Linked DNA regions of Homo sapiens. The protein of the gene in region 1 interacts with the protein of each later gene in a biochemical or structural test. Each region holds a gene or a part of one and is shown in the gene's direction. Other genes may lie near its edges.

What was found.
Region 2: the proteins of CRIPTO (region 1) and ACVR2A form a complex in vitro, tested with the Homo sapiens proteins (one study listed by BioGRID).
Region 3: the proteins of CRIPTO (region 1) and BMPR1A form a complex in vitro, tested with the Homo sapiens proteins (one study listed by BioGRID).
Region 4: the proteins of CRIPTO (region 1) and BMP6 form a complex in vitro, tested with the Homo sapiens proteins (one study listed by BioGRID).

Annotation. Positions count from the first base shown.
Region 1 is NC_000003.12:46,573,106-46,580,808, forward strand, and holds the start of CRIPTO (protein Cripto isoform 1 precursor), read left to right. Parts: upstream 1-4,682; 5' UTR 4,683-4,864; coding exon 4,865-4,899; intron 4,900-5,989; coding exon 5,990-6,042; intron 6,043-6,126; coding exon 6,127-6,261; intron 6,262-6,633; coding exon 6,634-6,748; intron 6,749-6,845; coding exon 6,846-6,955; intron 6,956-7,703. UniProt on the Homo sapiens protein: GPI-anchored cell membrane protein involved in Nodal signaling. Cell-associated CRIPTO acts as a Nodal coreceptor in cis. Shedding of CRIPTO by TMEM8A modulates Nodal signaling by allowing soluble CRIPTO to act as a Nodal coreceptor on other cells.
Region 2 is NC_000002.12:147,848,022-147,855,046, forward strand, and holds part of ACVR2A (activin receptor type-2A isoform 1 precursor), read left to right. Parts: intron 1-7,025. UniProt on the Homo sapiens protein: On ligand binding, forms a receptor complex consisting of two type II and two type I transmembrane serine/threonine kinases.
Region 3 is NC_000010.11:86,752,307-86,759,635, forward strand, and holds the start of BMPR1A (bone morphogenetic protein receptor type-1A isoform 3 precursor), read left to right. Parts: upstream 1-4,312; 5' UTR 4,313-4,613; intron 4,614-7,329. UniProt on the Homo sapiens protein: On ligand binding, forms a receptor complex consisting of two type II and two type I transmembrane serine/threonine kinases.
Region 4 is NC_000006.12:7,729,074-7,736,098, forward strand, and holds part of BMP6 (bone morphogenetic protein 6 preproprotein), read left to right. Parts: intron 1-7,025. UniProt on the Homo sapiens protein: Growth factor of the TGF-beta superfamily that plays essential roles in many developmental processes including cartilage and bone formation.

The DNA of each region.
Region 1 (7,703 bases):
GCTAAGGTTTCTGGAAGACCAGATTTCTGGACCTCTTAGTCCAAGGGAATAAAGGATAGGGGGAAGAGTTGGTGAAAGACAAACACACACACACACACACACACACACACACACACACAAAGCAGTTTACAATACAGTGAGACCGAGCAAGGTGACTCATGCCTGTAATCCCAGCACTTTGGGAGGCTGAGGCAGGCAGATTGCCTGAGGTTGGGAGTTTGAAACCAGCCTGGCCAACATGGTAAAACCCCGTCTCTACTAAAAACACAAAATTAGCCAGGTGTGGTGGCTCATGCCTGTAATCCCAGCTACTCAGGGGACTGAGGCAGGAGAATCGCTTGAACCTGGGAGGTGGAGGTTGCGGTGAGCTGAGATCGCGCCATTGCACTCCAGCCTGGGCAGAAAGAGTGAAACTCCATCTAAAAAAAAAAAAAAAAAAAAAATATATATATATATATATATATATATATATATGCAGTGAAGACAAGATAAAATCTGGGGACGGTGGTTGCCAGGACAGGGCTCTCAGAACAGCTGGAAGCTGGAGTAGGGAGGATGGTCTCAGCAAGGACTTCCCAGAGCAAATGAAATTTGGGCTGAGTCTCAAAGAAGCCAGTCCAAGTGCTCTGTAAGAAGGACCAGCCAGGTCATAGAAAATGAAATACAAACACCCAATAACCAAGCAACAATGAAATACTACTTTTCACATACTGTATTAACAAAATTTAAGATGCTTGCTGCAGCCAGACCTGGTAAGTACTTGGGAGATAAGCTCTCAATACCAACTCAAGGGGGAGGGAGGAGGGGCGGAGAGGAGATTGGTGCAGGCTTCTTCGAAAATAATTTGGAAGCATCCACCCTTTAACCAAGCAATTCCAGTGCTAGAAATTTACAAGAGGAATATGCTCTCAAGCGTTCACCAAGATATATGTACAAGGAAGTTCACCACAAAACGTGGAAACATGTCATGTCTATTCATTGATAAAATAATGTATACTATGTCTACATAGGAAGAAATATGATACGGCCCCCATGGCGCACGGAAAAAAAATGAAGTCCTCTCTTAAGCCCTTCTCCATTCCTCTTACGCCATTTATGTAACAATATGGCTCTAAAATGACTTGCTTGAGCATGTCTTCCCCACTGAAATTGCAGATTTTTGAATGCAGGAATCTGTCCTTTTATGTCCCACACAGAGACCTTTGGCAAATACAGAGTAAGTTTCCAGTTGCAATTTGTAAGTTTGCCAGTGAAAACAGAAAGCCATTAACTTGTTAATGAAGTGTGGCCAGGACACATTGGGTGGATAATGCTTCCGCAGGAGTGTAGCTCAGGTGTTAACAGAAGCTAAGCTTGATGAAATTAGAGGCCCCAGCATTCCTCAGCTGGAGGGTACATACATATACAGAACTCCCCCGCCCCCTCTGCTCTCTCTTATCTTCTGGCCTGCCTGGATGTTCAAGGGAACAATGACAGAGGTAAGACCTAAGTGCCCTATGATAAAAGAAGGCTTTTACCTTGAAATACTGTCATTGTAGTGCAGACATGGCATTCTTTTGTTAACTCTTTGGTTGGAATTTAGTTCTACGTGTTCTCAACTATTTAAACAAGGTCGAATTGGCTTTTGATAGCTAAAATTGATCCCATTCTCCAAGTTTATTTTCTTCCTTGAATTTTAGGCAGACACAGGAAGTCTGTCCTTTGATTATGATGTATTTCATTCCACCATTCTTGTTTGGATGGTTTTAAGTCAAATGCTTATTTGTGTGATTTTTAAACACAATTCTGCCCCAGTTTTTAATACACAATGTCTCAAGGGCAGTACCAAGAAATGGCCAACACCAAGAGCATTGTTTTTCATTTTCTGCTCTCAGTGCCTTTTGTAAGGGATGAGATGGGCTGCCTGTGATTGGGGAACCCCCGTTGCACAGCACTTCCCAATCCTAGGCCTGACCTTTTGACACAAAGCACTCATTGGCCTGGAGGCTGGCCAGCAGCCCAGTTTCAACAGTGACCAAGCAGAGGTGACCAGTGGCCATCCTAGGGTAGCCATTCAATTCCCCCACCTGGAGGCAGCAACAACTTTTTGCAGTTAGTACAATTAGAATCAACAATTACTGTTCTTTCTCTCCAGCCTCACAGTGGGGTTACTTCTCACAACTGTTTCTCCAGCGCCAAACTCCAGTCTACAGGCCGCCCAGTAGTAGACATCAAATACCTGTTAAATAGCCCTTACATCTCCAGCCCAACGGCAAATATCTAACCTCTCTTAAACACCACAGCCCTTCCCTTCCCCTTCTCCCCACCCCCCATCCCAAAACCTGGCCCAGGCTCTGAATACCCTGGATCCACTTGGCTTCCTCTGCAGTCAGTACCTATGGGGAATGGGAATCTCTTCAGGGGGTTCTGGTCCTTAGAGAAGGGATTTTGTGTGGCTGAAAAGCTGGCATCCTGGGGTTCTGGTCCCGTCAATGACAACATCGCCAGACTGGAGACCTCAGTTACTTCCTCTGAAAATGCAGTGATTTCCAGGGGTCCTATTTAAGCTCTAAAAATTCCACAAGAGCTTTAGATAAGGAAATAGCAACGCAGGGGTGTGTTCTTTTGCCAGTTCTGCCACAGGCCTGCCCAGTCTCTAAAGACAAGACATCCAAATCCCCCAATAGAACTAGTTGTCTTGTCCATAAAGTGAGACTAATATTGTGGGCGCTACTTATCTACTTAGCACCTTGGACTGGTGAGGACTGTGGTGCACAAGCTACCTTACAAATGTACCACACTGAGTAACATCTTTAAACCTCCTTGCAGCTCCAGGGCTAGCCTTCTCCTTTGCGGAGCCCTCCCCCACCTCCGGCCTCCTAGAGCTTCAGGCCATGTTCCCCTGTCCCCTGTGAATCTCAGCATGCTACCTGAAGCATTTCACCTGAAAAGGCCACACAGGGAGGAGGCGAAGCGCAGCAGGAATGAAATAGTCAACTGCTGTGGAGTTGGAAATGTTGCTGCATCCCACCATTGACTGGATGGGGCCTCACTCCCCCAATACAAATTATTTTACGTTTGCTTCTCCCAAGATCATGTGTAAGGCCGGGCGCGGTAGCTCATGCCTGTAATCCCAGCACTTTGGGAGGCCGAGGCGGGTGGATCATGAGGTCAGGAATTTGAGACCAGACTGACCAACATGGTGAAACCCTGTCTCTACTGAAAATACAAAAATTAGCCGGGCGTTGTGGCGGGCGCCTGTAATCCCAGCTACTCAGGAGGTTGAGGCAGGAGAATGAGGCAGGAGAATCACTTGAACCCAGGAGGTGGAGGTTGCAGTGAGCCAAGATCGTGCCATTGCACTCCAGCCCGGGTAACAGAGGGAGACTCTGTCGCAAAAAAAAAAAAAAAAAAAAAAAAAAAATCATGTGTAGAAGTAAATAACACCTCTTCCCAGCACCTGTGGATCCATGGCATTCACACAGGTAGGCACTGACGCTGAAATGGCCTCAGATGCTACCAATTCTTTCTGCCGAGGCCTAAATCCAATAAACAGAGATGGATGGAAACAACTATCTAATAAAAGTTTCGCATTTGTGTGCCTGGCAACATTAAGTAACCGTCAGGCTTTCCTTTAGAAATTGGAATTAAATGCGATTTAGAAACTATTAACGACTTTGGGCGTATTTAATAACACATGAAATAACCCGGAGGATTGAAATGTTAGGTGAGGCGACTCCGGCTCATAGACGCGCCTCTCCATCTGGGGCGTCTGGCACTTAGTGGAACCACTCAATAAACACGTTTACCCCTGCAAGCGGCACATCAGAGTCCGGGGGTAATTCTCGGTGTCGTGGGGCCAGGACGGCGAGGGGCTGGAAGAGGCCGCCCTGTGGGAGCTGGGAGGCTGAGATAAATTCCCGTGATTGGGGGCTGAAATGGCCTCCCATGCCGGACTGCCGTGGTTCTAGAACTTTTTCCTGGAACAGGCCGGCACTCCCACTGGAGAGTCCCAGCTGCTGCGCCTCTGGCCGCCCCTCCCCTCTCCCGGGCACCTGGCGCCGGCTCCCGCGTCCTTTCAGGAATTCACGTCCGCCTGGAATTTGCACTTCAAGTCTGGAGCCCCCAAGGAACCCCTCCTGACCCTGAACTTCTATCTCAGTTTCAAGCTTCCTAGTCTTCCCCACACACACACACCTAGCTCCTCAGGCGGAGAGCACCCCTTTCTTGGCCACCCGGGTATCCCCCAGGGGGAGTACGGGGCTCAAAACACCCTTCTGGAAAAACAAAGGTGGAAGCAAATTTCAGGAAGTAAAACTTCCTGAAATAAAATAAAATATCGAATGCCTTGAGACCCATACATTTTCAGGTTTTCCTAATTAAAGCAATTACTTTCCACCACCCCTCCAACCTGGAATCACCAACTTGATTAGAGAAACTGATTTTTCTTTTTTCTTTTTTTTTCCCAAAAGAGTACCTCTGATCATTTTAGCCTGCAACTAATGATAGAGATATTAGGGCTAGTTAACCACAGTTTTACAAGACTCCTCTTCCCGCGTGTGGGCCATTGTCATGCTGGTGGGCGTCCCGCCCACCTGAAAGGTCTCCCCGCCCCGACTGGGGTTTGTTGTTGAAGAAGGAGAATCCCCGGAAAGGCTGAGTCTCCAGCTCAAGGTCAAAACGTCCAAGGCCGAAAGCCCTCCAGTTTCCCCTGGACGCCTTGCTCCTGCTTCTGCTACGACCTTCTGGGGAAAACGAATTTCTCATTTTCTTCTTAAATTGCCATTTTCGCTTTAGGAGATGAATGTTTTCCTTTGGCTGTTTTGGCAATGACTCTGAATTAAAGCGATGCTAACGCCTCTTTTCCCCCTAATTGTTAAAAGCTATGGACTGCAGGAAGATGGCCCGCTTCTCTTACAGGTATGAGCTAATCTTGAATGTGAACTTTTTTTGATTGCTAGAGATTGCCAGCTTAGGAAGTAATGTTCTACACCTGTCATTTGATTTTTCTCTTGCTCAAGCCTTAAAAGAGCTGCCAACCGCACTGCTGTTTTTCCTGAAAGACCTGGAATTTCACATGGTTACTTCTAACTTTGCCATTGGCTTTTAACATTTTCGTGTTAATGTTAATTTTCATTTTATGTTAATGACTCTGCCTATGAAATAGTGTTTCTTTATTCTTGTACAAATAAAGGTCAGTACTACAACCAAATTTAAAATCTTCCGAAAAGATTAAAGGTATAAGCAGATTCAATACTTGGCAAAACTATTAAGATAATAGCAAAAAAAAAAAAAAAAACCCACATTTTTTACCTAAAAACCTTTTAAGTGATTGGTTAAAATAGTTTGGCCGGGTGCGGTGGCTCACGCCTGTAATCCTAGCACTTTGGGAGGCAGAGGCGGGTGGATCACCTGAGGTCAGGAGACCAGCCTGGCCAACATGGCAAAACCCCGTCTCTATTAAAAATACAAAAATTAGCCAAGCATGGTGGCGGGCACCTGTAATCCCAGCTACTCTGGAGGCTGAGGCAGGAGAATTGCTTGAACTGGGGAGGGGAGGCAGTGAGCCGAGATCGCACCATTGCACTCCAGCCTGGGTGAAAAACCGAAACTCCCTCTCAAAAATAAATAAATAAATACAGTAGTTTGTAAAATGATTCATCGGTAACATGGGATGCAGCTATTTTTTAATCCTTATATGAAAATTGTATGCAGGGGAAAACATGTGAAATAGAAGATAAAAGACATATACCTACTTAAAATTAGGTACTTATGTGAGGACAGGGCCTAAGAAATAATAATATATATTAAAAAGACTTGGATATTGGTGACTTTTTTTCAACATTTTTCTTTGTTACATGAATTAGCCATTAAAAAAAGAAAGATGGTGCTCTACAATTTCTTTTCAGTGATCTGTGGTCTTGTCCTTGTGATGAGAGGACCTGGGTGTTAACTTGTAAGGTTTTATTTCCTTTGTTTGGCTAACTCATGTCTGACTTCCTCTTCCTAGTGTGATTTGGATCATGGCCATTTCTAAAGTCTTTGAACTGGGATTAGTTGCCGGTGAGAGACCTTTTGTTCTTTTGATCACTCTCAATTTTTATGTGGCCTAAAATACAGACTCCATGAATTGATTTTGTCGTTAAGGGCTGGGCCATCAGGAATTTGCTCGTCCATCTCGGGGATACCTGGCCTTCAGAGATGACAGCATTTGGCCCCAGGAGGAGCCTGCAATTCGGCCTCGGTCTTCCCAGCGTGTGCCGCCCATGGGGATACAGCACAGTAAGAACTGCCTGACTTCGATGCTTCTGCCCTGGCCCTTCATGTGTCTCCTGAGTATCTTTCCAACACTCTTTCACCTAAAAGGGCACCTGGTTCTGGAACTGTGCAGGTGCTGGACTGCTTTTGGTTTTGGAAGTGAGACAAGGATTGTGTATTTTACTTCCCTAGAGTGCAGTTTTCCTCCCCTGAGTCCACTTCACACTGGGGAACCCAGAACCACCACTGGCCTATGCATGAAAATGACTTCTCTGCTCAAAGGCACAGAGACTTACTCTGATACAACACATTGGTGTTGTATTAACCTTCGCTTACAGGAATTGCCCTTGCACTTTTCCATCCCTACACCCTCAGTCATCTGTTCTTACCTTTCAGGTAAGGAGCTAAACAGAACCTGCTGCCTGAATGGGGGAACCTGCATGCTGGGGTCCTTTTGTGCCTGCCCTCCCTCCTTCTACGGACGGAACTGTGAGCACGATGTGCGCAAAGAGTAAGCAATTCAGAGGGGCGGGGAGCCGTGGAGAGGAGAGAGAAAGGGAAGTGGAAATTTCAGACCCAAGGCTATCGCCTTACCTGTTCATTCTCAGGAACTGTGGGTCTGTGCCCCATGACACCTGGCTGCCCAAGAAGTGTTCCCTGTGTAAATGCTGGCACGGTCAGCTCCGCTGCTTTCCTCAGGCATTTCTACCCGGCTGTGGTAAGCGGAGGTTCTCCTCTTTCTTTTGCCCTTTGAAGTTACGTAGTTGCCTTGGGGGGTGCTTAGTTAGCAGGCTCTCCTTGTACCTCTTGTCTTGCTAGAGCCTGGCAGCCAAAGTTCTGCTTATAAAAGCATCGCAGACTCCTGATGAGATAGTTGCCTTGGCCTCTTTGATATTTATTTCCTCGGGAACCTGGCTAGTCCTGCTGCCTTTCAGATAGAGATGTATTTCAAGTCTATTTGACATTTTATGGTCTGAACTTCTATTGAGGAAAATAAACAAGTCTCGGTCTCTTGTTAAACCAAGAGATGTTCTCTGGTGTTCCTTTCCTTTGGGTAGGGGGACCCAAACCAGGATGGGCAGCTCATTTAGAGCCCACCCTGACGACAAATTCTATCAGAGGCTTGGCCCCTTGCTAGTCCTTTAGAAACTTCCAGAGTCCTAAAAGTCCCTGGTAACCCCCTCCCCATACCTTACCATGACTGGTCACAGAACCCTTACCATGACTGGTCACAGAACCCTTTCACCTTCTTGATTTTTACTGATTTGAGGAATACAATGAAAAGAAGGGCAGCACCTGGAGAGGAAAAGAGGCGACAGTCCTCTCTCCACCCTAGCCTGAGCCAGGTTTCTAGGGCCCCCCAAATTCAGAGACCTATTATAGTTCTGGGCCTTGGAGATGTTAGAAATGGAAAATATTCAAGTCCAGGAAGTAAATGAAAGCAAACATTTCACTGAGAACAGGAA
Region 2 (7,025 bases), on another chromosome or scaffold:
GAGGAAATGGAAATATGGTAATTATGTTTTCTTCAGTTCAGCTAGGCAGTACTGTGTATGTGTGAATGTATGTGTGGTTGGAGGGGGAGTTAGCATTACAGAGAATCTTTTGGGATTCTTTTGAACTTTGATTAACAAGTGATGGATGATAAATACTTTGTTTTCTAAAAGGCAGAATCTCTTATAAATGGTGTCTGTGGTCAAATTCAAATATAATACATTGAAACATGGAGACTAGAAACAAAATGAAACAAAATTCTCCCTCCATTCATTTTCTATTTTTTTTTCCTGTTTATGATCTAAGCCAACAGTTCTCAAGCTGGGGTGAGTCCCCCTCCCTACTTCCCCAGATCCCCATCCATGGGACATTTGGAGACATTTTTGGTTGTCACAACAGGGGACGGGGTGTGCTACTGGCATCTAGTTGGGTAGAGGGCAGGGATGCTTCTAATCGTCCTAAAATACATGGTACAGCCTTCCACAACAAAGAGTTAGCTGGCTCAATATGTCAGTAGTGTAGAGGTCAAAAAACCCTGTTCTAAGAAAACCAAATACCACATGTTCCTATAAGTAGGAGCAAAATGATGAGAAAACATGAAAACAAAGAACAGAACAGCAGACACTGGGGTCTACTCAAGGATGGAGGGTGGGAGGAGGTAGATGAGCAGAAAAGATAACTATTGGGTACTGGACTTAATACCTGGGTAATGAAGTAATCTGCACAGCAAACCCCATTATACGAGTTTACCCATGTAACAGACCTTCACATGTACCCCCAAACCTAAAATACAAATTAAAAAAAAAGGAAAAACTCAGTTCTAAACTCTTAAATTTTAAAAGCAGTAGTTTATTAGTAAAAGGGCTCTGCTCTCTTCCCCCTAAAGTTAGTAATCTAAATTTTACAAGTACATGGTATTGATGATCTCCAGGTAACGTTGTATTGAAAGATTTTTATCTTTTCATTATCTTTTAAATTAGAATATGATTAAATTAGAGAAACAGACTATAGATACGCACATTCTTTCATCCTTGATGAAATGCTTGAGAATTCACCAGTATAGTATAATATTTTATACTATAATAAAATATTCCAATGACTTATGGATAAACTCTCCTATCACCGATTTTGATAGAGTGCTCATGAAGACTGCATGTTCCTGGACATAATGAATGATTGGTTAAGGTATCAAGTTTAATTATATTTGCTTTAGATCCAGGATTTTCTTTGCCATGATATGATCTTTAAGGATATTTGCCTTTATTTTTACTGACATCATTGGGCTGCCTTATGGCGGTATTCGTGTGTGTGTGTAACATGTTGCCTGAAATATGTTCACTATTACATGTTCCCTGAATAGTTTCAAGGTAGAAATTCTGTTTTTTTAAAAAAGATATTTCTTTTGTCTAGCTAACTTTAATTTCAAGAAACTTTTAACCTAATCTCTTAATTACATAATTATCTTGAGAATCACTAGCTGGGTTTTGGTTACCGTTAGACTAATTCATGATACAGTAAGTAATATTTTATGATCTATTGCAGATCGTTTCCCTTTTTAAGGCTAAATCTTGACCATAATTAATAAAATGCTTACCTTGTTTTGAACTCTGGTTTTAAGGGAGTTAACCTAGCCAACCAAGATAAGAATTACAGTGAAACTCTTAGCAAATTAAGGAGCATTATACCATAGAGAGGAAAATTCTGAAGTCATTCCCACAAATGGTGTCCAAATGAGCCTCACAGTGTCTTTGTAACACACCTCTCCATACCCTTCTCTCTGATACTGACATTTTCGCCTTTTGGGTCCACCAGACTCACTGTTCTTAAGAGAAGCACAACTAAACCAAATGAGATTTTAGTAATCTCTAAATTGTTTCTTTAGATTCCAAGACTTTATTTTGTTGCATTTTGACTTTTTAAAGTGCTACTATGATTTTCTCATCTTTGATATTTCATGAGTCCAATGATTTAAATTTGTGTTTTCATGGTCTGTTAAGTTGCCAGTTGCCATGTTGTCTCAGATTATAGGTAAGGTTGGCAACATTTGATACTAGGGGTCACTGGTATGCCTTAGCTTTTTGCTCACTGCTCTGTAACTCATTGTTTTTTCCATTCCCTTTCATTATTGTTCCCTTTCCATTTTCCTCCCTTCTTTGTCTACTCCCTTTTCTTCCCCTGACCCTTCTGTACTTCCTTATACTGCTTGCTTGTGGAACCCAGTTGTGGCTTAGCATCATGGGTGACTCCAGAGGGCTTACCCGTAGTTTTAATGAAAACAGATTGAATTTAGAATGCTTGAGAATTGACCAGATAGTCTTTTCCACTGTTTTTTCATTTACTGGTTTCTGGACTACCTCGCACACCCTCTTGGGAATAGTGTTACTCTCTTAGAATCAAATGGCTTGAACTTTAGATTGCTCTTATTCTCTTTTTTAATATTCAGGTTTTCCTTAACTCTTTGCTGCTTCAGAAAAAGTTTCGCTCATCTTATTATTCATTTATCATCTCTGTTTAAGCCAAAATTTGACTAGAACCAAGAGTATATTTATTGCTGCTGATAGGACCACATTAGACTTCCTCTGTGGTAGATTTAATTCTGTTAGATTGTAAAATAGTCATGTCTAGACAGAACATTGATTTCAAATTGACTATTGAACATGAAAATTCCAGGAATAGTGTATAGAGGAAGGAGGAGGAGGAGGAGAAATCAAGAAGGTAAGAAAACTACTGTAGATAGCAAGTGACTTTCTGTCATTCTCCACCTAGATTTCTTGTTAGTCACTTTTGTATACCCAGTGCATCTAGAGGTCAGGCTTTGTTTTAATAAAGGGACTTAAAGGAAATATGTTTTTGTCTCTGAGATTGGATTTTTTGAACTGTTAGAGTGGTGGACCTAAGGGAAAGAATTGGAAACTTCATATGGATAGTGATCAAGAATGTGGTCGTAGAGGTTGGTAGACTTGAGCTGTGGTGTCAGTGCTGCCAGTATCTAGCTTATGTATCATTTTCTGTTACTTGATTATTGTAGCACTTTTCTAGCTAAGATTCACCAGTTCCCTATCACTACTTCCTTTTCTTTCTAGTCCATCTGCATAGCTGCTGGAGTGATCTTATTAAAAAATAAATCTGAATATGTTACCCTTGCTTAAAACCTTTCACTGACTGTGAGTCACCTTTAGCATAGAATCTAAAGTCTTAGAATGTCATAAAAGGTCCTTCATCGTTTGGTTCCTGCCTATTTTTTCTAACCTCTTGGTATTGGTTAAGAGTATAGACTCTGGATATAGACCTAATTGGTTTAAATCTTGGTTTCATAACTTAACCTTGGTCAAGTTACTTCACCTTTGTGTGCCTCAGTTTTCTCATCTACACAATGGGGGGATATTAATAGTGCCTACCTCAGAGAGTGGTTTGAATATTAAATGCTAGTTATTCTGCTGCAGCTTCTCCTCAGCCTGAGTACTATATTCCATCCATACAGACTTGACTTGCAGTTTCTTAAATGTGTAATCCTTTATTGTATATCAGTATGGTGCCTTTGTACATATTACTCTTCCTCTTCTACCTGGCTAACCCCTTTTTGGTTTTAAGACTGAGAAGTATCACCTCTTTAGAAACATTTTCTCTGTCACTCAACCCAGATTGAGTTAGTTGCTTTCTGTTCATCTAACACCTTGTAAATGACCTTGATTTCAGTAATAATTGCAAATGTTTACTTGCCTGTTTCCACTTTAGACTGTGCAAATGTTTACTTTCCTGTTTCTACTCTTTGAAGACATCTTTCCTTTATCCACACACCCATTCCTGGAACCTGGTACACAATAGGTGCTCAGCAAATGTTTATTAAATGAATGAAATGAAATTATTTCACTTCTCTGAGCCACGGTTGTCCTCTTAATGTATTGAAGTGGTGAACTTGGATTAGATGATCCCTGATTTTTTTTCCTACTCTGAAAGCTTTATGGTTCTATAATTTTAAGGTTAGAGTTCAGTGGTGACATTTTATTAAGAAAAGATGATTTTGCTCATTGTTTTGATATCTTTAAGTTATGTTCAAATTTAAATTTTTTTAAATAATTAAAATTAGAATTTGAATTATATAGATTTAGAGGGGATCTTAGGTATCCTCATGTTCCATGGCTTTCATACTTTTTTGACTGTAATACACAATAGGAATTACACATTGCATTATGACTTAGTTCCCATGTAGTAGTAGGGGTGTATGTATATATGTCTGTGTGCATCAGAAATGAAAGTTTCATGAACTGTGTACTCTTAACTATGTGCAGGACACTTATGTATTTTTATATTACATTTCATTTAAAAAACATTGATCGTGACCCATTAATTGATTCATTGACCAACTAATGGATTGTAAATCCCTAAAACCAGTGACCTAGTTCAACAATCCTTATTTCCTGTATTCAGTACTCTCTTAGTGGAAAAGGAAGCTTCATATGTAAATGTGTGCAATGAAAAATATATGCACTGAAAAATATGGTCATTAATTAATCTACAATAGAGACTGTGTGCCTAGGTATAGAATATAGGGAAAACTGGTCTCAAGGGAGAACATGGCTCTTCCCTGATTAAGGTCTTCTCTCTTTTGGACTAGTCGAATAAATTAAGCACACACGAAGGCGCTGAAACAACATTAGATTGTAATTTTGGGGAGTTGGGATTTTTTAATTTAGGAAAGACTTGCTGGACTTAGTACTGGAAAAAAAGTCTTAGACGGAGATTAGGAAGGATGTTAATATGAAGGAAAAGACACAAAATAGCATCAGGAACACAATAGCCATTTGAGAGTAAACTTGACCATGGATGAAGGCAAGGTGGGATGGAGAAATTTTGACTAAATCTGAGGAAGAGATTTGTGTGATGAAGAGAGTTCACAATTGCTTGAAGAAGTAGGACAATCTCAGGGGGTTAACCCTTAAATTCAAATGAAAAGTAATTAAAACTGAGGAGGTAAGAGTGGATGATACATATCCTGATGTATGTCCCAAATACCCCATATGTGGATATAGGACTGAAAAGCAACTCGAAGACTAAGGTAGAATGGTAGCACTACTAAATAAAATTGGTAAGGAAGTAATGAGCCAGAGGAAAATTGAAAGTGCCTTCATAACTAAAAAAGTTTACAGATAGATATAGTTTTAGATGATAAGCATGAATAGAAATAAAGACATGTATTTGGAAAAATAAGAGTACATAATAAAACATGATAACGTAATATTCTCTTAAAGAGGCAGACACTGTATGATGGATATGTCTTCATTGTGAAGTCTAGTTAAAGAATTCTAAACATTAGTGGCTCAATATGTTGTTTATGTTTAAATGATGGTCAAATTTCAGTAATTACTCATACTGGTCATCCAGATTATATTCTTTGAAATCTGTATGAGACCCTACAGTAAAATACACTGTTCTAAGGAAGTAGATTTAGATGCTTTTCTGAATTTGGTATATGGTATTCACGCTTGAAACCTAAACTTTTCAGTGACCATTCTTTTGGACTAGTTTTTTCTTTGGTTGGCTGTAGTCACACTGGGAATTACTTTATTCTCTAATATTGCTAAAGAAAATAAATGTAAAGCAAGAAGAGAGTTACTACATTAGAAGGACTGGCTACACATGTGGGGAGGGGTTGCCTTTCAAAAGATTTTAAAAATGAATCAAGTCTTTACATATTGTAATAAAAGTAAGCCTATTTATAAAGCTTAGAGGGAGGAGTTTTCGTAGTTATGATTATTAACTTTAAAATTTTTATTTTAAAGGAAAAGTTTATTGTTCTTCCCATCTTCATAACTATATGTGATATATCAAGCTTGCTCCAAGGCATTATTTCAAGAGGAAGGGGCATGGACAAGTTATGAGATCTTGGCACATTTCTAAAACTCTGAGATTAACTTTTAAAATTTGTAAACCAAGATGTATTAAATGAATTGATAACTCCACATAACATGGTAGCTGGTCCAGAGTAGATCTTACATATTAGTTTTTAATCTATCTTTAAGTCCCATTTAAAAGGATATGGTATGTAAAACATTAAAAAATATAGATTTGGTTCTTGGGGGATATTTACATTTGCAGGTTACTTATCAGTCAGTTAATGTGAAATAATACTCTGACTAAATGATACAGCCAAAGAACATATCATTATAGAGAGCCAGATAGCTGCCAATAAATATCTAGAATATTCAGATATCGTGGTTCCTTACAAAGAGTTCTTTAAGGTCTCACTGTTTTAGCATGCATTAAAAAGAAACAATGGACTAAATCGTCTCTATTTATTAGTGGGAATTTAAAATATCTTTTTTTCTTGGACAACTTCTCTTAAACTTTTTAAGTGTTTTAAAACTTTTTAGTAGAAGTAAAGTTTTGAAAGATTCTCAAGTCTGTTTTTTAGGTACCAGCTACTTTAAGCTTTGAAAACACAAAGCTATTCAATGACTGTACTTTGAGATCAATATTTTGAATGTGGTATAATATTTTGGACTAAAACTTAAGAGTCTGTCATTCAAATTCCTACTTTCCTACTGACTCTTCTTTGACCTTTGACAGCCATTAAGATTTCACTTTACTCACCCTAAATTAAAGAGGGTGAAATAGGTATTCATTCACTTAACAAATCAATATTGAACTACATGCTAGACACTATGGTAAGTGCTTGGGATACATTATTAAACATGAAGACAGATATGATTATGCCTTTCTGAAGCTTATAGTCATAAAGTAAGTAGTCAAATGAACAACATAATTACAGATTGTCATACGTGCTCGGACAGAAACTAACAGGGTGCCGAGAGGATTACTCTTTATTTGCCTTATCACATATCACATCTGTTTACTTTATCTGCCTATTTCTTTTTTTTTTGAGACTGAGTCTCGCTCTGTTGGCCAGGCTGGAGTGCAGTGGTGCAATCTTGGCTTACCACAACCCCAGCCTTCCAGTTCAAGTGATTCTCCTGCCTCAGCCTCCTGAGTAACTGGGACTACAGGCATGCGCCACCATGCCTGGCTA
Region 3 (7,329 bases), on another chromosome or scaffold:
GTATGTCCAGAGCATATATATTATATATAGTTTTCATCTGGTTAAAAAATAATCCAAGTGCAATAAACCAGGTGCTGTGAGGATAGGGAAAAGCAGGGCAGTGAGCTGCAGCAGGACAGGGAAGGCCAAGATCTACTGTGGGCTGCGTGGGAGTTGGGGTAGGGAGGCCCCAGCTCCCGGTGCTCGGTGGGAGGAACCATAGTCCTCTAGGCAGTGCCTGATAGCCAGAGAGTAGTGAGCAAACAACAGGTGGTAGTCCAGGAGCGCAGTGGGGATGGGGACATCCAGCCTGAGGTAATGGGGGAAGGGAGGCCCAACAGATAGATAGAATACAGATACAGGGAGCCTAGAAACAAAGAGCTGGAGGCAATTAAGTGATGCCACCAACAATACCTACAACTGCCCAGCAGTCTGGGTGCAGGGATGCAGCTAAGTCCAAACAACAAGCAGAGAAATTCCAGGTCCTGGCAAGCTAACAGGTCAGGGTTTCAGACACAAGAGAAGGGCTGTCAGTTCTTAGAAAGGGGCGAGGCAGTGGGAGGCTGAGTCTTGAGCTTGGGACCAAAGCTCTGATAATTCTTCCTGCCTCAAGGCCTAGGAAAGATCAGGTTCTATGGTAAAGGGTGTACGGATAGTAGGGAAAGGAGGAATACAGAGGCCACGGACTAGGTAGGACCAAGTGAGAGCAGCAATATCCTCCATCATCTATCTTTCAATCATAGTAGCCAGTGCTTTGAGGCAAAGATAAATTAAAATGGAGCTAAGGGAGAAGGAGCAAGTTGTTTAGAAGTAAACAAAAGAAGTAAAACACTGTACCACCACAATGAAAATGAATTCAGGTTTTTAAACTTCCTCTATTTTGTGCACTGAATTATATACATCCATCTTATTCTTAACCACAGTTTCTGTTTCAGTTTAGTCCTTCTAAGCCATGATGGGGTACTACTAACCAAAAAAAAAAAAAAAAAAAAAAAAGATGTAGTAGTGTCCATGCTGAAAAATGAAGCTGTTTATTCTCCCTAACACCTACCCATTTAATATTGGGTTTGAAGCCAACCTAAAGGGTCACCCTACCAATGGCATTCCTTCACTCGTGCCTCCTTACTGGCCTCTAACTTATCATCAGACCCAGAGACTTCGTGCTGCCTTTTGCCTTATAAGATCTTTACAACATGAAAATGACTTTGAATGGATTAGCTTGGATTAATCTATTCACCTTGGATCCCTGAAGGCAGAAGTCCCATTTCACTGAAGAGGATGTGATCCACAGCTTTCCCAGCCAACCTTCACTCTTTCCAAGATAGCCATGCCACCCTCTAACACTAAAAGGGTCTTGGTGACAAGGTTTAGAAATGCCTAGAGGATATGTATGCTTATTTCTCTTCTCTCATTTAACAAATATTCACTTGCCAGGCACTAGGCTCTGAGGAGAGAGTTGAGAATAGATTGACAAAGTCAAGCTGGCCTGTAGTCCCAGCTACTTGGGCGGCTGAGGGGGGAGGATCACGTGAGCCCAGGAGTTCCAGGTTACAGTGAACTATGACTATGCCGCTGCACTCCAGCCTGGGTGACAAAGTGAGAACCTGTCTCTAAAAAAAGAGAGACTGACAAAGTCTTTTGCTCATGGAGTTTATATTCTAGTGGAGCAGAGGGGCTCAGACCACAAACAAATAACTAAATGCACGATGTAATTAATGAATGCTGCTTTGGGCATGTAACAACTACCTCTCTTGTGACCTACCTGGACAGAAGAAAAGACCATTTCCAGCCTATTCTAGTAACCCACTTAAAGGAATACCAACACATTACGGAATGTTAACTGTGGATCCCGAGATGTTGCTTTTGAGTTTGGGGGCCAGAACACACGTGTCCAGATGTCTCCCTGGGCAGACAGACCGGAGAAACGGGCTGGCATGCATAAACATGCCAGTAGCCAGGGAGAACAGCATGCCCCACTAGCTGCTGGTAGCCAGGGCGCTGAGGATTGAAGCCTGGGTACTAGCTGGGCCTTATCAAAGGAGAGCGAAAAATTCCTGAAGATTTGAAAAGGAGAGTCTTTTGCAGAGAAGCAAACATATCACGACTTAAAATTTGATGCTTCAATTTTGCTCTCATTTCTACAGTGGCAGATAACACAAGCCAGGGAATACTCATTTGTACATTTCAGAAACTTGATGTACTAAGGTTCCCACCTGAGATTGTTGTCTATTTTATAGACCAATTCATATGTCTAAAAATCCAACTAGACTATAAAGAGCATAATAACACGCTTGCCATGGTTTTCTCTGCCGACACATTGCTCAGCATACGTCAATGAGAGCTTTGACCAATCAATGTGAATCTCCTTAAGCAAAAGGCCCATCTTTTCCTTTAGAACTAAAGCTGGGGCTGGGCGCAGTGGCTCACGCTTGTAATCCCAGCACTTTGGGAGGCCGAGGCGGGAGGATCACGAGGTCAGGAGATCGAGAACACCTATTAACACGGTGACACCCCGTCTGTACTAAAAATACAAAAAGTTAGCCGGGCGTGGTGGCGGGCGCCTGTAGTCCCAGCTGCTCAGGAGGCTGAGGCAGGAGAATGGCGTGAACCCAGGAGGCGGAGCTTGCAGTGAGCCGAGATGGCGCCACTGCACTTCAGCCTGGGCGACAGAGCGAGACTCCGTCTCAAAAAAAAAAGAACAAAAAAACCCCAAAAAACAAAAAAACTAAAACTGGGTATTATGAAGGAAACTTGAGAAAGAAAAGTGACCAATTTTAGTTGATGCAAGTAATCTCACGTATCCTCTTCTTCCTGCATAGCAAGATACTACAACCCATGACTGTCAAACCTGAGACAGCTGAAGAGCCCAGAAAAAAAGATTAGGGAAGAAAACAGAATTGAAAAATAATTCAGAATGACAGAGGCTATCTGCAGCATTAAGGGCAAAGGCGGGTAAAAGAAGAAAAGGGAGACAGAATAAAAGATAAACCAAAAAATTGAAACAAAATACACGGGAATTCAAACATTTATACCAGAATATAAGGGAATACCCTGGAATCTAAACACCTCTTCAGGCAAGAATGTGTGTCAATACAAATGCCTGGCACATTGTTTTCCTTCCCCCTTTCTTTTTACCCAGTTTACCCAGTTTTAAAAGTGATTTTTTAAAATGCACCTTTAAAAGAACATCTTTTGTTAAGTGACTTAAACTTGATACATTTCTTGGATTACTAAGGAGGTTAAAGTCACATTTGGTGAAAAAGGGGCCTATCTCCTCTTTCCTCACATACGGGTCATCGAATACTTTTAAAAGCATTTTCCACCATGAATGAGGGGAAATGGAAGAAAAGAGGTGGTGACAATTATTTGCATTTTCCAAATGGACGGAATGAGCCTCCGGAGGGTACACGAGGTCACCAGCGTGAGCCCGCGGTGGAGCTGGAGGCGTATTTATAGCTGGCTGACCTCAGTCCTGTTGGGCCCTCGCCGCTCCTTATCTTATGCCGCTGGAATTCGCGGGCTCGCAGGTCACAGGAGCCCGGGCGCGCCGGGCCTGGCGCTCCCGAATCGATGAGGGAAGCCGCTCTCCCCGGCAGATCCTCCCGGCCGGGGAGCCTCCATCACCCTGCCTGCGCCTCGGCACGCTGGCAAGGAGCCCGGGAAGAGACGCCGGGAGCGGTGGGTGGGCGAGAAACAAATGCAATGTGACTTATATTTTTCTTTGTCGCAACTACCACGACCTGGCCATCCCCCACCTTGGTGACTTGGTGCCTTCCCAGCGACCTTATTTCACGCCAGCTGACTGGCGTTCACCGCAGTGTGAGTGTCGGCCGGAGGAGGGGTCCACGCGAAAGAGCCCGCGAGAGTGGGGATATCCGGCCCCGAAGGCCGGAGCGGGCGTCCAGGGCGCCGATGGCCGCAGCGCCCGGCAGCCGTGTCCACGCTCCCCTCCGCCGCGTTCCATCGCGTGCTACCTACGGCGTCTGCGGGAAGCTACCCGGGCGGCAGCTGTGGGGCTGGCTTGTGGGGAGGGGCCGGCGGGCCCGCGCGGAGGAGCAGCCCCGACTCCCGCCCGCACCAGCAGCTCGGCGCCCCCTTGCCGGCGGCTGGCCCTCCTCCCCGGCAACTGGGCGCCGGGCTCCGCGAACTCTTCGGGCGCTTCCGCCGTGCGCTCGGCTCTTTTCGTGTCCGGGGCGGGGCGGGGCAGGCGCCCGTGGTCGGGTGCGCGCGGCGCGGGCGGGGGCCTTCCCAGTGCGCGCGCGCCGTGCAAGGCCCGCGGACGCCCGCCCCTCCCCCAGGCCCCCGCACCCGCGCCGCCCCCTCCCCTCCTGGCAAGAGTCGGCGGCGGTGGCGGCGGCCGCTGCAGAGATTGGAATCCGCCTGCCGGGCTTGGCGAAGGAGAAGGGAGGAGGCAGGAGCGAGGAGGGAGGAGGGCCAAGGGCGGGCAGGAAGGCTTAGGCTCGGCGCGTCCGTCCGCGCGCGGCGAAGATCGCACGGCCCGATCGAGGGGCGACCGGGTCGGGGCCGCTGCACGCCAAGGGCGAAGGCCGATTCGGGCCCCACTTCGCCCCGGCGGCTCGCCGCGCCCACCCGCTCCGCGCCGAGGGCTGGAGGATGCGTTCCCTGGGGTCCGGGTGAGTTGGGAGTGCGCGTGCGGACCGGAGGGGCTGGCCGCAGCGGGGAGGCCAGAGGGGCTCGGGCGAGGCTGCAGAGGCAGCTGGGCGCGCGGTGGCCGGAGCCAGGGGCTGCCCGGCCCGGCCCCGGCAGCTCCGCAGGCCTCGGCGCGCGCTGGGCCGGGACCGCCCAGCCAGAGACCCACGGCACCCCGCGCCGCGTCCCCCGCCGGCCCCTCTTTTGTCTCCCACTCGCGGGTTGCAGGCCGAGTTTGGGGATGCGGAGTGGGCGAAAGTCGCTCCGGGGACGCTTCTGGAATCCTTAAATGGGAAAGGCGCTCACCTCCCCGCCCCGGAGCGGCGAGGCTGATATTTGTGATTTGGCTCCGGACGCTGTGGGGAGGAACAGGGGAGAACAAAATGAGTTTCGGGCGGGGGTCGAGTGAGAGGAGCAGCCGGCCCGCCCCCGAGTCCCCGCGGGAAGGGGCCCTGGCCCCCGAGCTCCCGGAGCTGCTTCACCTGTTGTCCTGCGCGGCCTCCGCTCCGTGGCCTGGTGATTCCGTACTTCAGTTTTGGAAAACTTTCTGCTGGATTGCCTGGACCCTTTTTTCTCTTTCCAGACTCCTAGTGGAAAGATTTGGCAAGGAAAAAAAAATGAGCTTGCGTCAGGGAAGAAAAATAATATGCTGTGTGTTAGGGTCTGGCGTTTGAGCGTGGTACTCTTTCATGCTCTCAGATGTTTTAATTTGGTCAAACTCCTGCAGGTTTTCTCTTTTAAGCGGTTAACAAACTGTTCAGAGTACATAGTATGAACTTGGCACCTGTGTTACGTCATTTAATCCTTACAACGATTCTGGTTTATTGTATTCCTCATTGTTTTAGGGGAAGAAACCGAGTCGCAAAGAGGTTAACTAACTTGTCTAAGGGAGCTGGGATTTGAACCCAGGAACATCGTATTCTGGCAAACGAATTAGGAAGAAAAAAAACCAAAACTGTTTGCAAACACTTTTACGTTTAGGAACATTTTTCAGTTACTCTTACTTGAAATTATCGCTATTTTGTTGCTGGAGTTGAAAACAACTACTTTATTGTATTTACTTGTGAGAGGAGTTAAACTTTGAATTAGAGTGTAACTTAATGCGTCTCATTGTTTTCAGTTGTTGAAATAAAGAATGTGAACCAGAATTATTTAGATTTTTAAATTTGAAGCTAAAATATGGGCAATTCTCTGATCTAGGAATGGGGTGAGTGTATGAAAGGCCGATTGAAATGTAGAATGCGTTTTTAGTAGAACCAGACTCAGTTCTTGTTTAATTTTTCCTCCATTTTCCGTGGAGCCCACTTTAAACTTTTTCTACTTTCTTCACTTCTCCCCACCCTTTACAGAAGAGGTTGAGGCACTTAGCAGGAGCTCCTTCATTAAATTCCTTCTGTTACTGGCTTCTTAACCTTCCGTCAAAGAGGGAGAATTTTTTTTTTTTTTTTTGTCTTTCTTATTAGTTAACACCTTGGGGTTTTTTTCCTTTCCTTCTAATTTTCCTGCTTAGTGGAGCGTGAGTTATTTTCTCTGTCGTATTTGGGTTCTTTAAAGTACAAATGTTCTTAAGATTTTTTCAGTTTACAAAAACCTTTTCTTAAGTCTGCTACTCCTTCAAGCTGTCTTGTTGCTGCTTTTCCTTTTCAAATCTTATTAACATTTTAAAAAGCTTGTTCGTAATAAAAGTAACACATGGTTGTTAATTGCGAACTAGCGCAACATTGAAATTAAAATTTAGTCATTCACAATCCATCTCTAGAGATTGCCAAGTGTAGTCTGCTTTTCCTGCCTTTGCCTGGTTGGTGGCTAGCCACTCATTTCTTAACCCCTTGTTATCTGGATTTCACCTTCACAAGGAACTATAACCTAATCAACACATTTAACTACCTTTTTCTAAGTCCTCTCCTTGAGTTTTCTGTAAGATTTAACATCGACTTCACATTTTCAGATGCCTCTCCTTGGGTTTCATTCATCTATACTCGCTGTATTCTAACACAGGGTCCAAGGCAGTAAGATACAACAGATCCTTCCCTCATGGAGCTTAAAGTCTAGTGGGGAAATACTTATTGAAAAATAAAGTCTCTAGTTAAATATAATTGTGATTTTAATTAAGGTGCAGAATATTATAAGAACTTCAAATGGAGACCTGATCTGGTGCTTGTGGTGGTGGGAGAATCTGGGAAAGATACCTTAAAATTGCTTTGTTGGAACCCAGGCAGATTGTGAAGGATGAGCAAGAGTTAACTATTAACTAGATGAAGAGGGGCCTTTTGTGACATTATACTGACTTTGTTCCTCTCCGCCACTTTTCTGCCTTCTGTTTCTTCTTTCCTCTTTAATATGCGTTCTCCAAGTTTCACTTTTCAGATCACTTTTCTCTATGTCTCTAGTCCCTTAGAATGATTGTTCAGACCTTTCTGTTGGAATAATTCTCAATTCTTTGTTTATGTGTCTTCTGAATCACGTTTTTTTGTTTGTTTGTTTTGTTTTTTCTTTTTTATTCAGTTGCTTTCTACATATCTGTACCTGATTGTTCTGAGCTGCTTTTCCTTAGCAAACTTGCCTCTTTGGTGTTCTTTATTTTTGTTGATGTCATACCAAACCCAAACCTTTTCCCATTTCATCATATCTTGTCTGTAGCCAACATCTGTTGATTCTGCTTTATGATATTGTAACTCTTCTGCTCTCTATTCTTGCTAA
Region 4 (7,025 bases), on another chromosome or scaffold:
GGCTGCTTGCACTGCCCGGGGTTCTGATTGGACAAGAATTTTCACAATTTATTGGAACCAAATCCAAGGTTGAGCCACCTCCAGGAAGCATTCTAAGGAAATTCTCATGCCAGTCAATAAAATTTGTAGTGGGTGGGGGCCAGGGTGGCAGAGGACCAGCGCTGTTCCTTATTCTAACTTTTCTGCTGCTTCTGACTTAGTAAATTCCTCCCCTTGCTCTCTTCCTCTCCTCTCCTTCCACCCTCACCCCCCGCCCCCACCCCGCCTCCAGGTTTCCTGGCAGCTCTGGGGAAATGTTTTATTGCCTCTTGGGGGTAGTCCTAACCTGGACAAAGGGGAGGAAGACTGGCGCTCCTGGCTACTTCACAGAGAATCGTGTTACAGTCCCTGGGAAAACAATTCCTGGGCTTGAACCGAGGTTCTCAGCATTAGCTGCCCTGTAGTATCACCCGGGGGACTTAGAGTTCTAGGGTTATTAGGGCCGCTTCGTGGGCCCAGATCAGTTAGGTCAGAATCTTTTGAGGGTGGGGCACAGGCATCATTTTTTTTAAGTACCTTAGGTTTTTCTAATATGCTACCGTGGTCAGGAAACACTGGCACAGGAGATCCCAATGTCTGAAGGAAATGGATACATTGTCCCAGTAAGAGATGAAGAGCAAAGCTTTCAAACATTGCTACACATTAGAATCACGTGGGTGTTACGTGGGAGGTAGGGGGGAACGCCTTAAAAAAACCCAGATGCCCAGGTGGCACTCCATATCAAATCAGAATGTGTGGAGGTGGAAACCAGGTAGCAGTATTTTTTTGTTCAAAAATAAAGAGGATCTCCCAACGTTGCCCAGGCTGGACTCAAAACTCCTGGCCTCAAGCAATCCCCCTGCCTCAGCCTCCTGAGTTGCTGGGAAGATAGAAGTGTGCCACCATGCCCAGCAGTGTCATTGTTTTGTCAAGATCTCAGGTGATGTCAGTGTTTGGAAACCACTGCCTTAGATGGTATTTGAAATTTCAAGAGCTGGGCCTAAGGCGAATTTGTAAAGTATAGTCATATTTACTGTATTTAGTGACCCTCCAAATTCCCCTTATTCCTTGCTTCTCTGACTTTTCGTGGGCTACAGGGACACACTGCCTCTGAGTCACACTGCTTAAAGCTGGCTGTCAGCTAATCCTTGCTAGGGTGATGGTTTAACATAGTATCTCCCTAGGGATATTGACATTTTTCGTAAAGGATTTTGAAAGATCTAAAAAAATCCCCTAAAAATTTTTAAGAGAACTCACCCAGTAGTGCAATTCCAGGCCCCAAGACAGGCTGACACAGAACTGAAAGAGAATTCTAGGATGGGAATTCTATCCCAAGCCCCTCATATTCCTATCACTGGGCTCCTTGTACAAGTTATAGCTACTGTAGGTCCACTTCTGGACTCTATACTGATAGTGTGAAGAGAAAACCTTTTGCGGGTAAGTAGAATCCAAGCAGCAAGCCATGCCACCTGCCAATGAAGCAATTCTATTTCATCTTAATCCATGTAGCAATAGGAAAGGGGTATTTCATCATCAGAGGCTAGAATGGGGTAAAATCTGATTGCCATGACTCTGAACATAGGAAGGACAGTTCATTTGAACAAAGTTATTGCGTACCAATGTTGGATTCTCTATATAGGGATACTAGAGAATTACAGATTTCCTAATTGCTGTCAATGCCATGTTAACTGCCACATTACCTGACTCATCTATTAAAGAATCTACAGAAAGATAAACATGACAGCGCTGCGTTTTAAAGTACGCTTATACCTACTAGGTTAAGTAAATTACACACTGGAAGTACAAGGGAAAGTATTACATAGTTGTAAACATCCGACTTCCCTGGGACTGGGGGAATAATTTACTCATGAAATACATTTGAAACACCCCGAGCCTTGTAAGCCAGCCGGACTATCAGGAAGTGTGAATCAACAGGATAAATTTCTCTCTCATAGCGCAAGTGCTGGTCATCCAACCAGCTCATTGTTGTTTATGTTGACTGTTTCAAACTCTTTCTGGGTGAATAGGCTGGGATGTGTCACCTTCTAAATGCTAACCGTCTGCTGCCTGGGCTGCTGGTGTGCAGAGTGCCTGGGTGAGCGAGCTCGTGAACTTGCATTCACTCAGGGCCACAGATGCCATTTTCTATTTGTTTTCTAATGCTAAAAATGTCTTGGCAGCCTAGTCAGCATCCCTGCCAATTTGGTGACCTTGGAGAGGTATCCTTCAGGTCTTAGCTTAAAATTCACCTAAGAGAGACCTTCTCTGCCACTCTATATAAACTGGTCATGCCTCCATCCCACCCACTTCTGTACCATGACAGCACTCTGCTTATTTCCTTCCTTGTACTTATCACAAGTTTTTCTTTTTTCTTGTTAAATTTGCTTACTCATTTGTTTGTCTCCCCTGTAGGATGTCAGCCTCCAAAGGCGGAAACCACGCTAACCCACCACAGTAGCCCAAGTGCCTAACATAATGCTGACCACATGGAAGATGCTTTGAAAAGGCTGAATTAGTGAACATATAGACATAGCCCATGCTTCAAATTCATATTTCACTGATTTGGAAGATTTGATTATTTAGAAAGGGTATACCTGATTTTTATTGAGTAAAATGTTTACAGTGAAGACATTTAGGACAGGGAGGTTCACAGTATTTGAGGTAAATCATCGTGCTTTATTAATACACCTTTTTTATTAGTCACCCATATGTATATTAATTTGTAATATGCATTACATTTGAGAGTAGTAAAAACATTTAATTAAATATCTGCATTTCAGATTTCACTTGTTTATTTGAATTCACGAGGTATTTATCTCCAAATGCTAGGATTAAATGGCAATTTAAAAAACTCAAATTGTGTTCAGAAAAGGGAATCAGTATATATTAGTACAAGCAGCAAGAAACTTGTGCTAAAAATACTGGCAATTTTCTGAACAAAATTACTCTTGGGAAACATAAATAAGAAGAAAAATGGAATACTCCCTACTTGTATTTGTAACTAGATATAATGCGCTATCTCTTTCTCCTAAACATAGCATCAGTAGTACTGTTTTTCATTTAAGCTACCTGTACTTAAGAAGATTTTTGTTAGCAGAAAATAAATCCATGCCTGCAAGCTACTCACAGCAAAAACAGTTTGGAGAATTTGGTTGCAAGAGTGTGATTCAAAGAAGCAGTAGATGTTCTTCTAAAGAGATTACAAAGAGTAAATTTGAAATTCAGTGGCATTTCAACAAAAAAAAGTTGTACAAAGTGTTCTTAAACTAAGATCAAAGGGCAAGCAGATACTATTGTTCAGACCTCAGATGGTGTTTCCTCTGGGTGTCCTTCTAAGAATGGGTATAAATCCTTTTTAAATGTGCTGAATCATGGTTAGTTCCTCTATTTGAGAGCTTACCTCTGATCAGCTTGGAGGAGGGCTTCCCTGGGATAAGAATCTGTTTAAATACAAAAACAATGCTCAGTGCTTGCTTTAGCATATAATTTGTTGCCTCTCTGTGTCTTCAGAGAGTAACTACTTTATATGTTGGATTTCAAATTGATATTTTACTTGACTATGAATACTGGCTAAATACTGGCTATCAAATGTAGTATATCAAACGTAGTATATCAAACGTAGCAAACTAAAAGATAGCAGCTCTGCTGTCTTTGCCTCACTCCTATTTACGAAGGTGAGTTAGACAAGGAAAATGAAGAGGGTACAATGTCTTGCATCATGAAGCAGCTTTCTGTAACTTTTTCACAAACCAATCCTTCACTTTCTGCTTCCCATCTTATATCAAAAATGAACTATTCTAGGGAATGATTTTTTTTTTTTTTTAAGACAGTATCTTTTTCTGTCACCCAGGCTGGAGTGCAGTGGCGAGATCTCGGCTCACTGCAACCTCTCCGTCTCCTGGGTTCAATCAATTCTCCTGTGTCAGCCTCCAGAGTAGCTGGGATTACAGGTCTCCGCCACCACACCTGGCTAATATTTTTTTTTTGTATTTTTAGTGGAGCTGGGGTTTCACCATGTTGGCCAGGCTAGTCTCAAACTCCTGACATCAAGTGATCTGCCTGCCTTGGCCACCCAAAGTGCTGGGATTACAGGCTCACGCCACTGCGTCCGGCCAGGAATGACTATTGTTTAACTTAGCACAACGTCGTTACAGTTTTAATTTTTCTACTTCGATCTTTATTCTATTTTTCTTCCTCTTCTGTTCAGAATTTTAGTCATTTTGCCATCTTTGGTGCTTCCAGTAGTGGGAAGAAAAGTAGACAATATTTTAATTAGACAATTTTGTTTTTCACTAGTTTTCATAAATATATGAGTAAAAGGAGTAGAAATCACCGCAGAAACTCCCTAAGATAGGAATAGACAATTTACCAAGGCCCCATTCACGTAAACAGCTGTTACACATTAACCATCCTGTCCCCCCCTCCCTAGGCCACAGCATAACCCAGCCATGTGCCCAGCAGCTGGGCTGCTCCAGCCGCAGGGTGTCACCTGGGGGGCAGATATAGGGCATAGCTGGCATCTTCTCTTGTGTTCCCCGCAAGGAACCAGTGCATTATGTTGTTCTTATTTCCCTGTTTTCATCACGACAGCGGAGTTAACTTTATTCAAATACACTTTCTTTTCTGATCATACCCTTACCTTCTCTTCAACACCCTCACTCCCATCTCTGATCCAGCTTTTACCCACTGGAAACGTGTGAGTCGGAAAACGGCACTAGTCTCTCCTGGAATATATGAAAGTGGTGATAGTTGTATGAAGGGGAAGGAAAGCCATCACCACTTCGGTGAAAATTAGAGTTAACTCTAATTTTTCAGTGCCATTAACCTCTGAAGTTTCGAGAGTACCAGAAATTCTCAGAACCTGCATTCCCCCTGTTCACCTTTTACTACAAGCATTAGAAATCAGTAACACATTGTGGGTCACTGAAATTTATCAGATTTTGTGTTCAGTCACTAGTGTTTTGAAGATTTTGTTGTCTATACTTTTTTTCCAATGTGAATATGTAGTATTTCAGCACCCTATGCATAAAGTTAAGGGTCTGAAGCCAGGCTGGGAACACAGCTACCATCCCTAACATGGTTTTTCTGGGGACACGTATGCCCCAGCAACAGAAAACCCATTTGGGGTTTATTGGTTAAATGAGTTTGGGATAACTGGTGAATGTATGTTCGCCATAGATCATAGAATTTAGAGCTTGAAAAGTTCTCGCATATCATCTAATCTGTTTGTTCGCAGTTAAATTTGTTAGATGTTTTCACCACCATTTTCTCTTTACTGCTGTTACCTCTTAAGATTGAGGGACAATCCATGAAAACACACAGAGATCCTAGTGCATCAGAGCAATAGGGCTGTTGGCCAGGCTGGAGTGGATAATGAAGGAGAAATTACAAAAGCAGGCAAGAGCACAACCCTGGAAGAGCCGAGGAAACCCAAATCTGGAATTGTTGGGGTTTTCTCTTAGTGGATAGCATCTTCTCCAAGAACTCTACTTTTAGAAAAGAAAATGCTATGTATATCTATAAATGTCCAAAGGACTGTTGACTCCAAAGAATTGTTTTCTGCTCCGAAATTGAGTTGAAAACCACGTTGCTCTGAGTGGCATTGTTCCACTGATATCCACTGATTCTCTTCCTGCCCTTCCCATCTCCATTATTAAGGAGATTGGGACCATAATAGAGATGATATCTAAATTACATCAGTTAATTCCTTGATGGGTCCCCACGGTCTCGTTATCTCAAGCACAGTCCCAGATGACTGGGTCGAAGAATCTCCTTCAAACATTTTTGCAGGATGAGGTTCTGGTTCCAAGTGGGAGAGCCTTCCTGACTTTCAGATTTATAGGCATACGCCCTTGATGACTGATCCTCCTGCTGGCCAGGTCAGGATTGTCCTAGGCCTAAAATGTCCTTGCCACACAGTGCCGATTATATGTTCAGATTGTTTTCATATCACCAAAGAGCTCAGCTGGCCACGGGGGGAAGTGGAGTGGAGTGGATTCACAGGGCGCAGAAAACAGTGCCCCTCGGAGGCAGAGCCCCGGAGCCCGCTCCACCCTGACCTCCGATATCCGCCACGGGCCTTATTATCACTCTCCTGCCGCTTGCCCTTTCACCGTCCAGAACGTCTGCGTTTGTTGATTGTTGTTGCTGTGTTTACAGTCCTGTTGGTTTCCTGTACGTGAACATGGGCTGGAAAAAAAATTCTGATTTGTGTCTCAGCAGAGCATGAGTGAACCATATCATTGGTAAGAGCTGATTAGGCCAGGAGATTTCTTATAATATTAGCCTTGCTTATTCTCTGAGACCAGTTATTTTCCCTCCCTCCTTTTGAATCTATGAATTACATTTAAATAGTCCAAAGACTGAGTTTTGTAAACTACAAAATTAAGGACTAAAAGTTTTTACTTAATTTTGATTTTTATTCAGATTTTATTTGTAGACTCCCATATCGGAATAAGTTAACAACGGAGAAGCTGTACATTTTTTAGAAAGAGAGGGTTTTTTTTTAAGATCAGTTTGAGGTTCACAGCAAAACTGAGCAAAATTTTGCAGAGATTTCCCAGGTACCCCCTGCCCCACAGGTGCACAGACTCCTCCATTATCACCCAGCAGAATTTGGTATCTTTGTTGCAATTGATGAACTTATATGGACACATCATTGTCACCTAAAGTCTGTAGTTACATCCCGGTTCACTCGTAGTGTTGCAGATTCTGTGGATTTGGACAAATGTGTAATGATGTTATCCACCGCTATAGTATCATGCCGAGGAGTTGTGAAACTACTCTGCCCTACAAATCCTCTGTGGAGAAGCTGTACATTAAACAAGGAAAAACAAGTCAATGAAAGTATAAAAATTCAAAATACGCAGAGTTCGGGGAAAGAATTATAAAATACCTCAGTTGAAGAATATTTTGTTTCTGGGGTTTTACTAAAGTGGTCCCTAAGGAAGTAATTTTGATAGTCTATGACAATGTGGGATTTATTTTATAGTGCTTCTATGTGTTGA